Homo sapiens: one gene and its partners. The protein of the gene in region 3 interacts with the protein of the main gene of each other region in a pairwise test. Each region holds a gene or a part of one and is shown on either strand. Other genes may lie near its edges.

Region 1 (3,500 bases), on a different chromosome or scaffold from region 3:
GGGAAAGACACCACGTGAGGGTGACGATGTGACAGCAATCACAAATGCCTGCTCACGGGACGGACGAGAACCCAGCTGTGCAGCGCTTTGCGAGGGGGGCCTGAGGCCCTCAGTGACTGCAGCCTTCGACTTAGAAACGGCTAAGCCTGAAATGATGGGGTGTGCCCCGGATGCCTCAGACAACAGATAAAGCTACTCCAGCCAGGAAGACACAGAAGTGGAAGACGGAGATAAAACTGCATGAAACGAAGGGATAAAGGAAGAGCAGGATTTCTAAATGAAGATACCGGTTCCTAAAGGATGCAACCTGAGAGAAGCATAATGACCATATCAGCCTATTTATAAGCAGGCAGTTAACTCATTCATCACTCTGTAGCTGACGCCTGTGCCCCCAGCTGCACTCACATGGCGTGGTGAGCTTTCACCTGAGTGCGGCAGTTACGGCCCCAGTAGCAGTCAGGACGGGATGTTACGGCCACTGGAAAAAGAGAAGGGGTACGCATCTATGAGATGTATTGCACGCACCCACTCAGCTACCTGAATCCCAGCAGAGACCCAACGACAGACGCTGCGGTGGAAACGCACGGCCTCTGGTCCCTCCATAACTAGTTTCCTCGGACCGTTCTGAGATTTCAGGAAAGGAAACACATGTTTAACTAAAAACCCAACTGAGGGTCAGGTACAGTGGTTCATGCCTGTAATCCCAGCACTTTGGGAGGCAGAGGCAGGAGAATCGCTTGAACCTGGGAGAGGGAAGTTGCAGTGAGCCAAGATCACACCACTGCACTTCAGCCTGGGCGACAGAGTCAGACTCTGTCTCAAAAATAAATAAATAAATAAAAATTAAAAAATAAAAACCCAATTGAGGAAATAAAATTACCCCAGTTGACTATTGGATGTCTTTACAAATCTGTTTTAGAAACCCACGTTACACTCATGAGTAACTGCAAATAGACCCAGGGCCTAAAACAACCACAGCCCTGTATGGCCTGACGTCCTGCCGGCTCCTGACTGAGGCCAAATTCTGCTTAGAACATTGAGCAAAGTGCAAACAGGGTGTCTGTAAAGAAAAGAGTGCTGGCCGAGCGTGGTGGCTCATGCCTGCAATCCTAGCACTTTGGGAGGCCGAGGTCAAGAGTTCGAGACCAGCCTGGCCAACATGGTGAAACCCCGTCTCTACTAAAACACAAAAAATTAGCCGGGCGTGGTGGCGGGTGCCTGTAATCCCAGCTACTCAGGAGGCTAAGGCAGAAGAATTGCTCGAACTCAGGAGGCAGAGGTTGCAGTGAGCCGAGATTGCACCACTGCACTCCAGCCTGGGCAAAAACAGCGAAACTGTCTCAAAAAAAAAAAAGAGAGGCAGAAGCCAAGAAGCCAACCCAGACAGAACTAGAGCCATGAGGAAGTCGGGGGCTCCTTACCTGGCAACTCGGAAGCAGGAATGTTCTGCCGATACTGATAGGTCAGCTCACGGAAGCTGCGCAGGCCACAGCAGTAACACAGAACGGTGTCTCCCGTGACTCTGTAATCTGGAAGAAACACAGCCAGTTACCCAGCAACACCATCTTCCCAACAGCAGCGCACGGACTTCACAGCAGTGGGAGACTAACGCACTGACCATAAATGGGGTGAAGACAACGGGCGACACATTAGGAAAATAAGAACAAAGCCAATCTAGATACGAATTTATTTTTATTGAGACGGAGTCTCGCTCTGTCGCCCTGGCTGGAGTGCAGTGGTGCGATCTCGGCTCACTGCAAGCTCCGCCTCCCGGGTTCACGCCATTCTCCTGCCTCAGCCTCCTGAGTAGCTGGGACTACAGGTGCCCGCCACCACACCGGGCTAATTTTTTGTATTTTTAGTAGAGACTGGGTTTCACCGTGTTAGCCAGGATGGTCTCGATCTCCTGACCTCGTGATCCACCCGCCTCGGCCTCCCAAAGTGCTGGGATTACAGGCGTGAGCCACTGCGCCCGGCCACCAATTTATTTTCTTACAGCAAAACAATCCCACGTGGATATAACATTTATTTTATTTATTTTTTGAGACCAAGTCTTGCTCTGTCGCCCAGGCTAGAGTGCAGTGGCGGGGTCTCAGCTCACTGCAACCTCCACCTCCTGCGTTCAACTGATTCTCCTGTCTCAGCCTCCCGAGTAGCTGGGACTACAGGTGTGTGCCACCGTGCCCGGCTAATGTTTATACTTTTTTAGTAGAGATGGGGTTTCACCATGTTGGCCAGGCTGGTCTCAAACTCTTGTCCTCAGATGATCCGCCCGCCTCGGCTTCCCAAAATGCTGGGATTACAGGCGTGAGCCTCCACGCCCGGCCCCACATGGATATAAAATTTAAATATTAAAACTCCCAAAAAACAAGAAGAAAATGAGAAAATTAGCTATTTCTAAGTATGTCTTGAAAACCAAATTGCACAGAGGAAAGGATTTGTACATTTGGCTATCTACAATTTAAACATCAAAATTAAAATAAATACAACAAAAGTGAACTACTACTATAGTGGAAACATTTGCAACACAAATGAAAATGTGCTATACCCTTAATTAACAAAGATATCGGCCAGGCACGGTGGCTCGCGCCTGTAATCCCAGCACTTTGGGAGGCCGAGGCAGGCGGATCACAAGGTCAGGAGTTCGAGACCAGCCTAACCAAGATGGTGAAACCTCACCTCTACTAAAAATACAAAAAAAAAATTAGCTGGGCATGTTGGCGGGTGCCTGTAATCCCAGCTACTCAGGAGGCTGAGGCAGGACAATTGTTGAACCTGGGAGGCGGAGCTTGCAGGGAGCTGAGATTGTGCCATTGCACTCCAGCCTGGGTGACACAGCAAGATTCCATCTCAAAAAAAAAAATAAATAAATAAATAAAAATAAAAAAACTAAGATTAGCCAGGCATGGTAGCACACGCTTGTGGTCCCAGCTACTTGGGAGGCTGAGGTGAGATGATCTCTTGAGCCCAGGAGGTCGAGGCTGCAGTGAGCTGTGATCATGCCCCTGCACTCCAGCCTGGGCGACAGAGCAAGAACCTGTCTCATATATATATTTCTACAGCCTCCCTTAGTGATAAATTATCATACTCCACAAAGCATCGTGTGCCCCCCTGGAGAGGAGTGACCCTCACCAAGTGACTGACACATCAAGCAAGAGATTCACCAAGTCCCCGAGGGTCCCAGGACAACTGACCCCAGGACCTCTGGATAGACAAGTGGTAGAGACCCTCCAAGCTGGCCCCACCTGTTGGAGGCCACACAAATGTTTCTTATGATTAGGCATAATTGAAGCCTGTCAGTAACAGTATGAACCTGTGATCAATTTAGCAGCTGCCCAGTTGTTACCTCCTCCTTGCTCTTGTTACCCAATAAATATGAAGGGCTGTAGAAGCTCAGGGGCAGCCTTTACTCACTAGAAGCAGGGAGCTCTCCTCTTCTTCCCCATGTTGCCTTTCCTTAAAAGTTTCTTTTGTCTTTTTGTTTTCATTTCTACGTTTGT
Region 2 (3,500 bases), on a different chromosome or scaffold from region 3:
CCAAGAGCCCACAGATTCAGGGGCAGTCAGCAGCTAGTGTCGGGGGAAGGGAGCGGGGAAGGAAGGTGGGTGGTGATGGCCCCTCTACCTTAGAAAGGCAATGCTCCACATGCCTACTCATCTCCTGCTCCGATCCTGCCAGGGGGCGGTTGCACAGGGGACATACCTGCCCTTCATCTTGCTTCCTCCGTTTCATTTTCCCAATCCGAGCTGCACGGGGAAACCGAAAACAAAGCACAGAACAAGCAGACGGTCACTGCAGCCCCCAGGGTCCCAGTGGAGCTGACACATCCTGACCTCTTGCCAGCCATTGGCCTTTTTATTCAGTGCCTGATCTGGCCCTCATCTTGAAATACCTCCTGCTCCTTTGGGGACTGGGCTTTGCCAAGAGCACCTGGGGAGGAGACTGGTGCTAACTAAGCCAGTGAGTAAGTCCACTCTTTGGCTGCAGCTGGTGCAAGGTCTACCCATACCTTTCTATTTGCAGTGTTTAATAAAAATCCAGTGAGCAAAGACACTCCATGTTGCTAGGTATCTCTCCAGAAGGCCAAGACCATGAACTCTTTTGGTGTCAGGAAATACAACTCTAAAGAGCATCTCTTGACTAGAACCTAACCCCTCCGATGGCCTGACTTGGCCTGCTGTTCACTCATCAGCTAAATCCTCTTTGGTTCCTGGGCCAAGAGCCCTGAGGTACAGCTCCTAGCATCCCACCTAGAATCTTATCAGGAAGAATTTCTCTGAGGTCCACTAATCCCATTTCACAGAAGAGGAGACTGAGGCCCAGTCATAAAGGTAAGACGGTCTGGGTCAGACCTTTGGCAGCCAGGTCAGAAGGCTCAGGGAACCCTGAGAAGGCAGCCCTTATTGTGCCCACCCGAACCTGTTCCATCATTTCTAATCAGTACAGAGGGGCTGGCAGGCCCTGGAGGCAGAGGGCTGCCTGCCATGTTGTCCCACAGGGGGCTCAGTTCCAAAGTGCACACTGCAAGCCCACAACACTGCTAATTAATGCTGAGCAATGCAATCATTTCTAATTAGCTCACTAATCCCTCTCTGTAGCCCTCCTGTCACTGAAGCAGGAAGGGGTCAAAACAAGAAACTCTCTTCCCTCTAGTCCCTTCCAGAATGCCACAGCAGGATCAGAGATGGCTACTCTGGGACCAGACTGATGGGGAGTGGGGAGAGCCAGCAAAGGAGGGAAAGGTTCCCCAAAGCAGGGCCAGGAAGAACTTTCTCATGGACAGTGACCCTAACGGGAAGCTCATGAATGCAATCTAGGAGGGGAACACAGGTGAGAGCTGCTATGTTACAATTTAAGCTTCTACCGTGTGTCAGGCTCACAGCCAAGTACCTTACCCAAGGTAGCTCATTTACTACCACTTGCTGAAGCTAGATTGCATTATCCCATTTTAACAGATGAAGAAACCCAAAGCTTAGAGAGATCAAGGTACGTGTCCAAGTAGCTAAAAAGTGGCAAAGGCAAGATAGGAAACCAGAACTGACTTCACAACCTAGAATGCCCTCCTGTTTCAAGGGGACCTCCTAACTGAGCAGCATCAACAAAGACTGGTCCCAGTGAGTGTGCTAGGGCTCCAGCTCCTGCCTGTTGTGAGCCTGAGGCAGGGAGCTACTCCAACTCCAAAACAGAGCAACCCCAGAAAGACCCAAACCAAAAGGAAAGCTACCATCCTGCCAGAACTGGGCATGGAGTTTGAGGAAACTTGGTCTGTAGCCCAGTCCATCTCTTCACTTTCCTGTGTCTTCACTATAGGTGACATGACTGTGTCCTAGTGCCTCACTTGACTTTGTGGACACAGATCGAGAACTCTTCATTTTGGCTGCCCTAACTCTTGGAATCTCAGACTTAGGTAGCCTTGACACTCTAGAGCCAGGGCTGGGATGGAGAATGGACGTGAAACATCAGAAAGGCATTGAGCAAAGGACCCTGAGAGTTCTAGAAGTGTAGTAAGGAGCAGTGTGCCAACACAAAGCTTCCTCCCTACCATGCCTACACCAAGGGAATGCCTCCCTGGGGAAGAAGGTGCTGATGATACCACAATGTTCAATGACTAAGGAAACGAATCTCATGGAATGGTCAAGAAAGGCACAATACTGGATGCGCTCCTTGCTCAGGACACACAGGCCAGCAGATGATCCCTTGTTGTCCCTGGAAAGCACCCCAATGGACTGGGCTTCATCTGCAAATTCTCAGAGAAGGAAGGCAGGTTTGGTTTTCACCTTCCCATTCATCTTCTAAATCCTGAATTAAGCTTACCAAAGTGTGGTAGGGAAAGTTCTGTTCTCTATCCAGAGGCTACGTACGAGTAGGAAGAATCAAAGCATTTGCCAAGGAGGTAGCATGGCATGGTTGGAGAAACACGGGCTTTGGTGGGAAACAAACTTCAATTGAATCATGGCTCAGTTACATCCCAGCTGTGTACTTTTAAACAAACCACTTTCACCTCTCAGAGCCTGTTTTCTTATTCACAAAAGGTGTGTAATACTCTTCTCAGAGGCGTTGTGAGAATGGTGCTTAACATGGCGCCAGCCCATCATGAATTTCTCCCTTTTCCAGACTAGGGCTCAGCCTGGCAGCAGAAACCAAGTGATAAGAGCTGGGGATCTTGAACTCCATGGCCTCTCTCACTTACCAGCTGACCCAGAGACCCTAAACCCCTTACAGCCACCCCCCAGATACCACACCCCAGTAAGCACAAAAAGCTAGGATCATTCAATTGTATTCAGCAAACAGGAATGCTCCAGAGGTTTGAATCCAAAAGGGGGGCTGCTAGGTAGTGCATACACGGCCTGCTTTCAGAGAAGGCCTCTAAGAGCTGTCGAGCCCACGCTGATCACCTTTGTGAAATGTGGGCCGACTGATAACTCAAAGAGCCCTGGGATGAGTTAGTTCCTGTTGCCGTGGGAACTCCAGATCTCACTGTATTGTCAAGTCTCAGCAGAGGGGCTGTATTCACACTACTGGGCACTGATTAAAAACTGGAAGAAAAACATTCTCAGCGCCCTGCAGGTTTGTATAGTGAGGTCCCAGCAGTTTGCAAATTCAAAGCTGAGCTCCCGAGTAGAATTGTGTAGCTCGTTCCTCATTCTCCGGCACTTATTGCCCCCCCAGGGTTCTTCAGGGCCTTTAGAGAGGTTTGGGCAAGAGCTGGGCGCCATACCTCCATTAGACAGACGGGGAAACTGAGAGCGGCAGCTTTGGTTTGCACATACTCAGGCGCCGTGACTGCGAAGAAGCCAACGGGCCCCAGAGTCGAAGAGACCCAGGCAAGCCAGGAGCGGCAGGCAGTGAGGGAGGGAGGGAGGAGGCCGGGGGTGGGGCGGAGGGAGGGGCCGGGCAGGACTCACCATTCAGTCGGGTCTGCCGGTTGGCTCGTACTCGCAGAAAGGTCTGGGAGAAGATCGCGGGCAGATGCAAGAAAAGAAAAGAGAGCGTCAGGCGCGGCCTGCAGTCCTGGCCCCCGCCCCAGCACCGGACC
Region 3 (3,500 bases):
ACAAAAGCAGTAATTTCACAATGAGATTCATCTATTCTAGAAATATTTTCCAAATTCTACTCTTGTAACTAGTGATAAACTCAGTACTGTTCATTGCATAGAAAGATGAAAGACTTTTCTTTCTTTTTTTTATTAGAGATGGGGTTGCCCTACGTTGCCCAGGCTGGTCCCAAAACTCCTGGGCTGCCTTGGCCTCTCAAAGTGCTTGGATTACAGGCATGAGTACCATGCCCAGCCAGAAAGATGAAAGACTAATTTAGGTAACAAGTGCTAATGCTACAGAGTTTCATCAAATAAAATTTTGGGGGAATTTTACTGCCCTAGAGGACTGGTTCTAGCCACTTTCCCAGGGCAGTGGATCTCTGCAAAGTTTCAGTTATTGGAAAAATCTTGAAGTCTATAAGCACATCAAGCATTGATGTTTGACCCATTATAATTATGTTAAAACTATATAGATTATGTATAAATACATTTTAAAAAATTTTAACGTATTACTGGCCTCAGAGTAGTTCTGCCATTTTCCCAATCAATGGATATTAGAATATACAACCTCTATGCCATGTGAGGGACTACAGAATTAACTGATATTAAAAAGGAATCCTCACTGGGCGTGCCTATGATCCCAGTACTTTGACAGGCCGAGGCGAGCAGATCACTTTAGGACAGGAGTTCAAGACCAGCTGGACCAACATGGTGAAACCTTGTTTCTACCAAAAATACAAAAAAAAATAAGCCAGGCATGGTGGTGCATACCTGTAGTTGCAGCTACTCAGAGAGGCTGAGGTGGGAGAATGGTTTAAGCCCAGGAGGCAGAGGTTGCAGTGAGCAGAGATCACACCACTGCACTCCAGCCTGGGCAACAGAGCGAGACTCTGTCTCAAAAAAATAAAAAACAAACAAACAAACAAACAAACAAACAAAAAAACAAAATAAAAAAACCAAGCCAGGCATGGCGGCAGATGGCTGTAGTCCCTGCTACTCTGGAGGCTGAGGTGGAAGGATCACTTGAGCCCAGGAGTTGGAGGCTGCAGTGAGCTATGATTACACCACAGCATAGGTAGATGACAAAGGGAGACTCTGTCTCCGCACCCCCACCCCACCAAAAAGTAAATTAAAAAAGGAATCCTTATATTTCAAAAAGAGTGAGAATAACTGACCTAGAGCTTTCAAAGGTACCATTCATTCCACATATAATCTTTCACTTTCAGAGAGAAAATTACTACATAGATAAATAGGCATTTTTTCCACACCGGTACTCGCATCTAATTGGCAGTATGGCAAAGGAGGAAAGGAAAGACTTGGGTTTGGGTCTTGACTGTCCTATAAACTAGGTATTAAAACGTGAACAAGGCACTTCACTTCTACAAGTTTCAATTTCTTCACATATAAAATGAGGATGAATCTACCTCCCCTAACCACTTCATTAAAAGATGTTAGAAAACAAAATCAGAATGGAAGTTAAATTATGAAGTACTATATAGAAATATTACCATACAGAATGCATGCAGGTGCAGAAAAAGTTAAGTTTGGATGTGACTATACAGGGACTTGAATGCCAGGCTAAAAACTTGATTCCATAGGAAATAAACATTAAGAGGTTTTACTGTCAGGGGGTGAGGAATTCTGGGGATGGTGGAGTGAGACAGAGTGTGTGTGTGGTGGGGGGGTGGAGTGGGGTGTGGGAGTGTGTGTGTGGGGGGGGGGGGATGTGTGTGCATGTCCATGTGTGTGGTATGTAACCAGTGAGATAACTGTGCCTTCAAACAAATCTATTGGCACCGTGAAAGGATGTAGGAATTCAAAGAACTAAAGGCTACTGTAATGGTTCAAATAAAAGATAAAAACCTGGACTAGGCCAGGCATGGTGGCTCACACATGTAATCCCAGCACTTTGGGAGGCCAAGGAGGTGGGCTGATCGCTTGAGCCCAGGAGCTCGAGACTAGTCTGGGCAACATGGCAAGACCCCATCTCTACAAAAAATATAAAAATTAGCTGGGTGTGCCATCAGATGGCCAAATCATTATTTACTGGACCAGACCTTTTCAAAACTATCAAGCAGATAGTCAAGGCCTGTAAAGTGTGCCAAAGAAATAATCCCCTGCACTGCAGGCCATACATTTCAATCCCTCTATCTTTAACCTCCTTGTTAAGTTTGTCTCTTCCAGAATTGAAGCTGTAAAACTACAAATCGTTCTTCAAATGGAGCCCCAGACAGTCCATGACTAAAATCTACCACAGACCCCTGGACCGGCCTGCTAGCCCATGCTCCAATGTTAATGACATTGAAGGCACCCCTCCTGAGGAAATCTCAACTGCACAACCCCTACTACGTCCCAATTCAGCGGGAAGCAGTTAGAGTGGTTGTCGGCCAACCTCCCCAACAGCACTTGGGTTTTCCTGTTGAGAGGGGGCACTGAGAGACAGGACTAGCTGGATTTCCTAGGCCGACAAAGAATCCCTAAGCCTAGCTGGGAAGGTGACCGCTTCCACCTTTAAACACAGGGCTTGCAACTTAGCTCACACCTGACCAATCAGATAGTAAAGAGAGCTCACTAAAATGCTAATTAGGCAAAAACAGGAGGTAAAGAAATAGCCAATCATCTGTTGCCTGAGAGCACAGAGGGAGGGACAACGATCAGGAAATAAACCCAGACATTCGAGCTGGCAACAGCAACCCCCTTTGGGTCCCCTCCCTTTGTATGGGAGCTCTGTTTTCACTCTATTAAATCTTGCAACTGCAAAAAAAAAAAAAAAAAAAAAAAAAAAAAAAATTAGCTGGGTGTGGTGGCATGCACCTGTAGTCCCAGCTGCTTCGGAGGCTGATATGGTAGGATCACTTGAGCCCAGGTGGCAGCAGTTGCAGTGAGCCAAGATTGCACCACTGCACTCCAACCTGGGTGACAAAGCGAGACGCTGTCTCAAAAAAAACAAAACAAAAACAAACAAACAAAAAACCAGACTACAGCACTGACATTAAGAAAAGAATGGGCTACCTTTCAAATGTAGGAGGGAGGAGTGTGGAAAAGAGAAAAACTGAGCACAAAAATAGACAGGTGGACAGTAACCCAGGATAAAGAAAAACAAAATGTTCTTTGTTATTGGAAAGATCAAGTTTAGTTGTGTTAAATTTGAGATGTCTGGAGGTACTCAAGTATTTCAACAAGGGTGTGAAATTAAGCCTTAAAAAAAGAAGTGTTCCCAGAGCTGTAGATCTGGGAGTTAGCTGCTTAAGGTGACTGAAGGTGAAAGAAGAGTGAGAAGAGTAACACAGTGCTGAATAAAGAACCTGGATAACACCAATGTTAGAAGAACAGACAAATAAAATCAGGGAAGGAGGATAAAATGAATTTGAAATAGGACAATAGGGAGAATTTATTACAAATGCTGTAACTTACAGAAATATTAAAGAAGAAATTCAACATAATGTTTAAGTTTGATATTTGATTTAGAATTAAATATTAAGGAAAGAGTTTAGAGAACACATTTTTGACTTGGTTTC
Region 4 (3,500 bases), on a different chromosome or scaffold from region 3:
AATCAGGGGAGATGACCTAGCCTAGGGTGGGAGTTGAAGACATCCTTAGAGAAGACACATAGGAAGGTAGTGAGAGGAGGAGGCAAGGTAGAAATGAAACAGAGGGACTTTGGAGATGGATGGAGTAGGAATGGATGATATAATAATTCTATGAAGTGCTGAGATCACTGCTAAAGTTGACAGTTGAACACTAGGATTCACTTACTGCTACCATTCAAACTTTTGGTGAACTATCTTTATGCATATCCTTTTAAGGCCTTGTAAATGTTCACTTGTAATTCTTTGTAGCCTCTAGCACACCCAGCAACTCTTTCTTGAGTAACCTTGCTTGAGAAGCTACAAGATGAAAAGTGTGGTCCCTTGCCTCAAGGGGCTCCAAGAGGGAGAATACAGCAGATAAGGGTTCTGCCTGAAGAAGACATCAGGTCAAACGGGGACAGGGAAAAGCTTCCCAAAGGCATTAATATTTGAACTGAATCCTGAATTGGCTAAGTAGAGAAGTACTACCCATGATAGGTACTCAATTAGTATTTGTTAATTAATTTCAGCTCACTTTCATTCGTAAAGATTACCTGAAATATCACTGAAGGACTGGGAGCTAGTTCTTATCACCACTGTTTTCATTATTGTCAATTAAAAAGATAAGTCTATCTATTTTAGTGTTCAAGGGTATAATCTGAAAAAGTACCACATCTTACCTTTGGCAGGGGTGGGGGAGTGTACTCATAATTTTCCCAATTATGAGTTCTCTTGTTGTTCTATGATTTCACAGCAAAAAGTTTTAAAAGCCTTCAAAACCAGCACATTTTGCTCACTTGAAATATGTTTATATTTTAGCATAAAATATACTCGGCAGCTCCTAACATAGTTGGATGGCTACGCATTGCAAAAACTTGATTTCTTTTTAATCAAATTTTTAGAACCGCACTAGGTTTCTTGCCAGTACTGCAACAGTGAGCAATAAATACATCATTAGATCAATGGTGGTCCAATGACGGATTACTCAAAAGATAGTTCCAGCCAAAAGGAATAAGCCAAGAAGTAACATTGTGCAGAGATTAATAAAATATTGTTTAAAACACAGATACTGAGTTAATATAACAGGGAAGAAAACATTGCAAAATAGAACAAAACAGCCATAGGTTTATAATATAGTGATATTGATCACAGATTTTCCTAAGTACTCCAGGGCAGCCACACTATTATATATGCCTCTGATTAGACCCAGAGATGAGAAGGAAAAAGTTATTAAAAAAAAAAAAAAAAAGAAAGAAACTAACCAGGGGAAGGCCTGCTGCTATAATAAATTATTTAAAGCAAGCAGGGTGAGCAGGTTGTGAGGACAATATAAAACAGAATCAATGCCCCCAAGAAACCCCAAACCGTCTGCACCTCTATAAATTTCTTACCACCCTGTCTGGCATTTTACTGGAGGTATTTCTTTTCCACCATCCTACCCACCCCACCCCTGACCCTTCACTTTTTGCCCAGTTCTTTTCTCAGAGCTTAACATTTGTTTTCCTTCTGTAACCCAGGATGCTGTCTTCAGTTATATTTTTCAGCTTGTATCAGGAGAGTGTCTGTGAGGCCACAGATGAGTGCATCTGTCACTTCATTCATCTGAATCTTAAATTTCCCCACTGACACTGTAAGCTGGGAATATCTAATATGACACACATATCAACATGACTTCAGTATTATCCTTCATCTTTTTCTTTCTTCTTACTACTGCTATCATTAAATCCACAAGCTTAAGCTGTTGTGAAACTTCTGTAGCTCAATGACTGTCGTATATTAGAGGATATTACTAGACCCAAAAAGCTAAAGTGAAGGTTGGGAACTTAAGGGGGCATTTCGGAGGAGAAATGGTAAAATGGCTAAAATGGAAGAACTGGGAGATGTTAAGAGGGCAGACTGATTTAAAAAGTGAATTTTTTACAAGGAGATTTTGCTATGGGGATAAGGGTAAGAAAAGAAGCATAAAAAACTTGAAAAGAACTTGTCAAAGGAAAGTTAGATGCCAGAAGAATGCCATAGCTAAAAAAAAAAAAAAGTTATAATAGAATTGTTGCTTAGAAGCTTGCAATGACCTATGGCCCAGTTTCAAGAAAAGCAGCATTCTACTATAGTTTTTGTAACTGGGCAGAAATCAGTCCCATTGTATGATCAGGGGCTGTGGATAGTATATTTTAGGCTTTTCCATTTTTCTAAGTCTATCCAATCACACAGAAGCTAGGCAAATAAAAGCAACCCTATTTTGCCAGAGTGAAAACATTAGCAGCTTAACATGACAACAGACAAAACAGCACAGGGCTAAAACACATGTCTAAAGGATTCTATACGTAGGCTTTGCCGCTTTTGTAATCTGGGACTTTTAGCAAATTATTTGCCTCTCTGGGTCAAGACTGTCTGGTTAAGGTCAGGGTCATTGAACTAATTATTATATATGGTAGTTAACTTTATAAAGAAAACTACTACAAGGTCACATTCAATATAAGAAACAATTTGAAGAAAAAGGTTAAAAAATTGTAGATGATATGAACGACTAAGCATAACCCTATCATATCACCACAATCCTAAATCAAAACAATTTAAGTTGCAAGGCCAACTTCTCAGTTATTGGTGTCATCTTTGAATGTGAAAGACAAGATCTAAATATTATCCTTTTGTAGCTGCAGTTTGCTCATCTGTAACAAAGTGGAAAAAAATCATTGTCCTCAAAGGATTGTTAAGGTAAGTGACCTATCAACATGCCTGCCAAGTGCTTCTTTAAACAGAAATTACTCTGTAAAAGTTCCAGTGACGATCCAGTGGTCTGGAACAATCCAAGTTTAATACCCTGGCCTATACACATCCTTTTGTTATCAGGATACTTCTCACCTCTGAAAGAAGTCATTTGTTTTTTTAGCTACTTGGATGGTAGAAAGAGGGAAGGGTAACTTCTGATAGATCCTTTCTCTTTCAAACCTTATTTAGTAGTCTTAAATGGAGAATTATGCCAGTCTGAAATGGGAGAACAGAATCCAAATGTCAGTATCAAATGATAAATAAAAAACTAATTGGCAATAACTAATAAAAATTCACAGTGCTCTCAGTGAAAGGGGAGGTAGCAAACAATTCTCAACCCACATCTCTGTGACAATGAGAAAATCTATTTACCCAATTAATTGGGCAGCTCAAAATACTCCTAAGGTGACTTTCAGAAAGTAAGAATCTCTGGGCCTCTGGGTGGGTGGCCTGGGACACTCTTCCTGGCCACAAGCAAAATAGTCACAGCTTCCCAAGGCGATCATTGACCTCATATAGTCTGTAGTAGCCCAGCTGAGGTGCTGGGCTTTGTTCTAGAACAGCTTTTAAAGAGAAAAAGGGTGCCTCATGAAGATAAGGATTCTACCTTGCAGGAGGAAATGCTCAACCATGTGAATTAGGACTGGCAAAGTCACCCCAGAGCATCCCAGGACCCCACCGAACTCAGAGTGGGGGGTGAAGGAACTAAGACT

The links. The genes of interacting proteins can lie anywhere in the genome.
Region 1: the proteins of UBE2W (region 3) and CHFR interact in a two-hybrid assay, tested with the Homo sapiens proteins (one large-scale study listed by BioGRID and IntAct).
Region 2: the proteins of UBE2W (region 3) and RNF220 interact in a two-hybrid assay, tested with the Homo sapiens proteins (one large-scale study listed by IntAct).
Region 4: the proteins of UBE2W (region 3) and MARCHF3 interact in a two-hybrid assay, tested with the Homo sapiens proteins (one large-scale study listed by BioGRID and IntAct).

The regions. Positions count from the first base shown.
Region 1 is NC_000012.12:132,842,606-132,846,105, forward strand, and holds part of CHFR (E3 ubiquitin-protein ligase CHFR), read right to left. Parts: intron 1,530-3,500; coding exon 1,422-1,529; intron 479-1,421; coding exon 406-478; intron 1-405. UniProt on the Homo sapiens protein: E3 ubiquitin-protein ligase that functions in the antephase checkpoint by actively delaying passage into mitosis in response to microtubule poisons.
Region 2 is NC_000001.11:44,632,255-44,635,754, reverse strand, and holds part of RNF220 (E3 ubiquitin-protein ligase RNF220), read right to left. Parts: intron 3,413-3,500; coding exon 3,370-3,412; exon of another isoform or gene 3,365-3,369; intron 518-3,364; exon of another isoform or gene 211-517; coding exon 167-210; coding exon of another isoform or gene 89-166; exon of another isoform or gene 1-88. UniProt on the Homo sapiens protein: E3 ubiquitin-protein ligase that promotes the ubiquitination and proteasomal degradation of SIN3B. Independently of its E3 ligase activity, acts as a CTNNB1 stabilizer through USP7-mediated deubiquitination of CTNNB1 promoting Wnt signaling.
Region 3 is NC_000008.11:73,819,863-73,823,362, forward strand, and holds part of UBE2W (ubiquitin-conjugating enzyme E2 W), read right to left. Parts: intron 1-3,500. UniProt on the Homo sapiens protein: Accepts ubiquitin from the E1 complex and catalyzes its covalent attachment to other proteins.
Region 4 is NC_000005.10:127,024,059-127,027,558, forward strand, and holds part of MARCHF3 (E3 ubiquitin-protein ligase MARCHF3), read right to left. Parts: intron 1-3,500. UniProt on the Homo sapiens protein: E3 ubiquitin-protein ligase which may be involved in endosomal trafficking. E3 ubiquitin ligases accept ubiquitin from an E2 ubiquitin-conjugating enzyme in the form of a thioester and then directly transfer the ubiquitin to targeted substrates.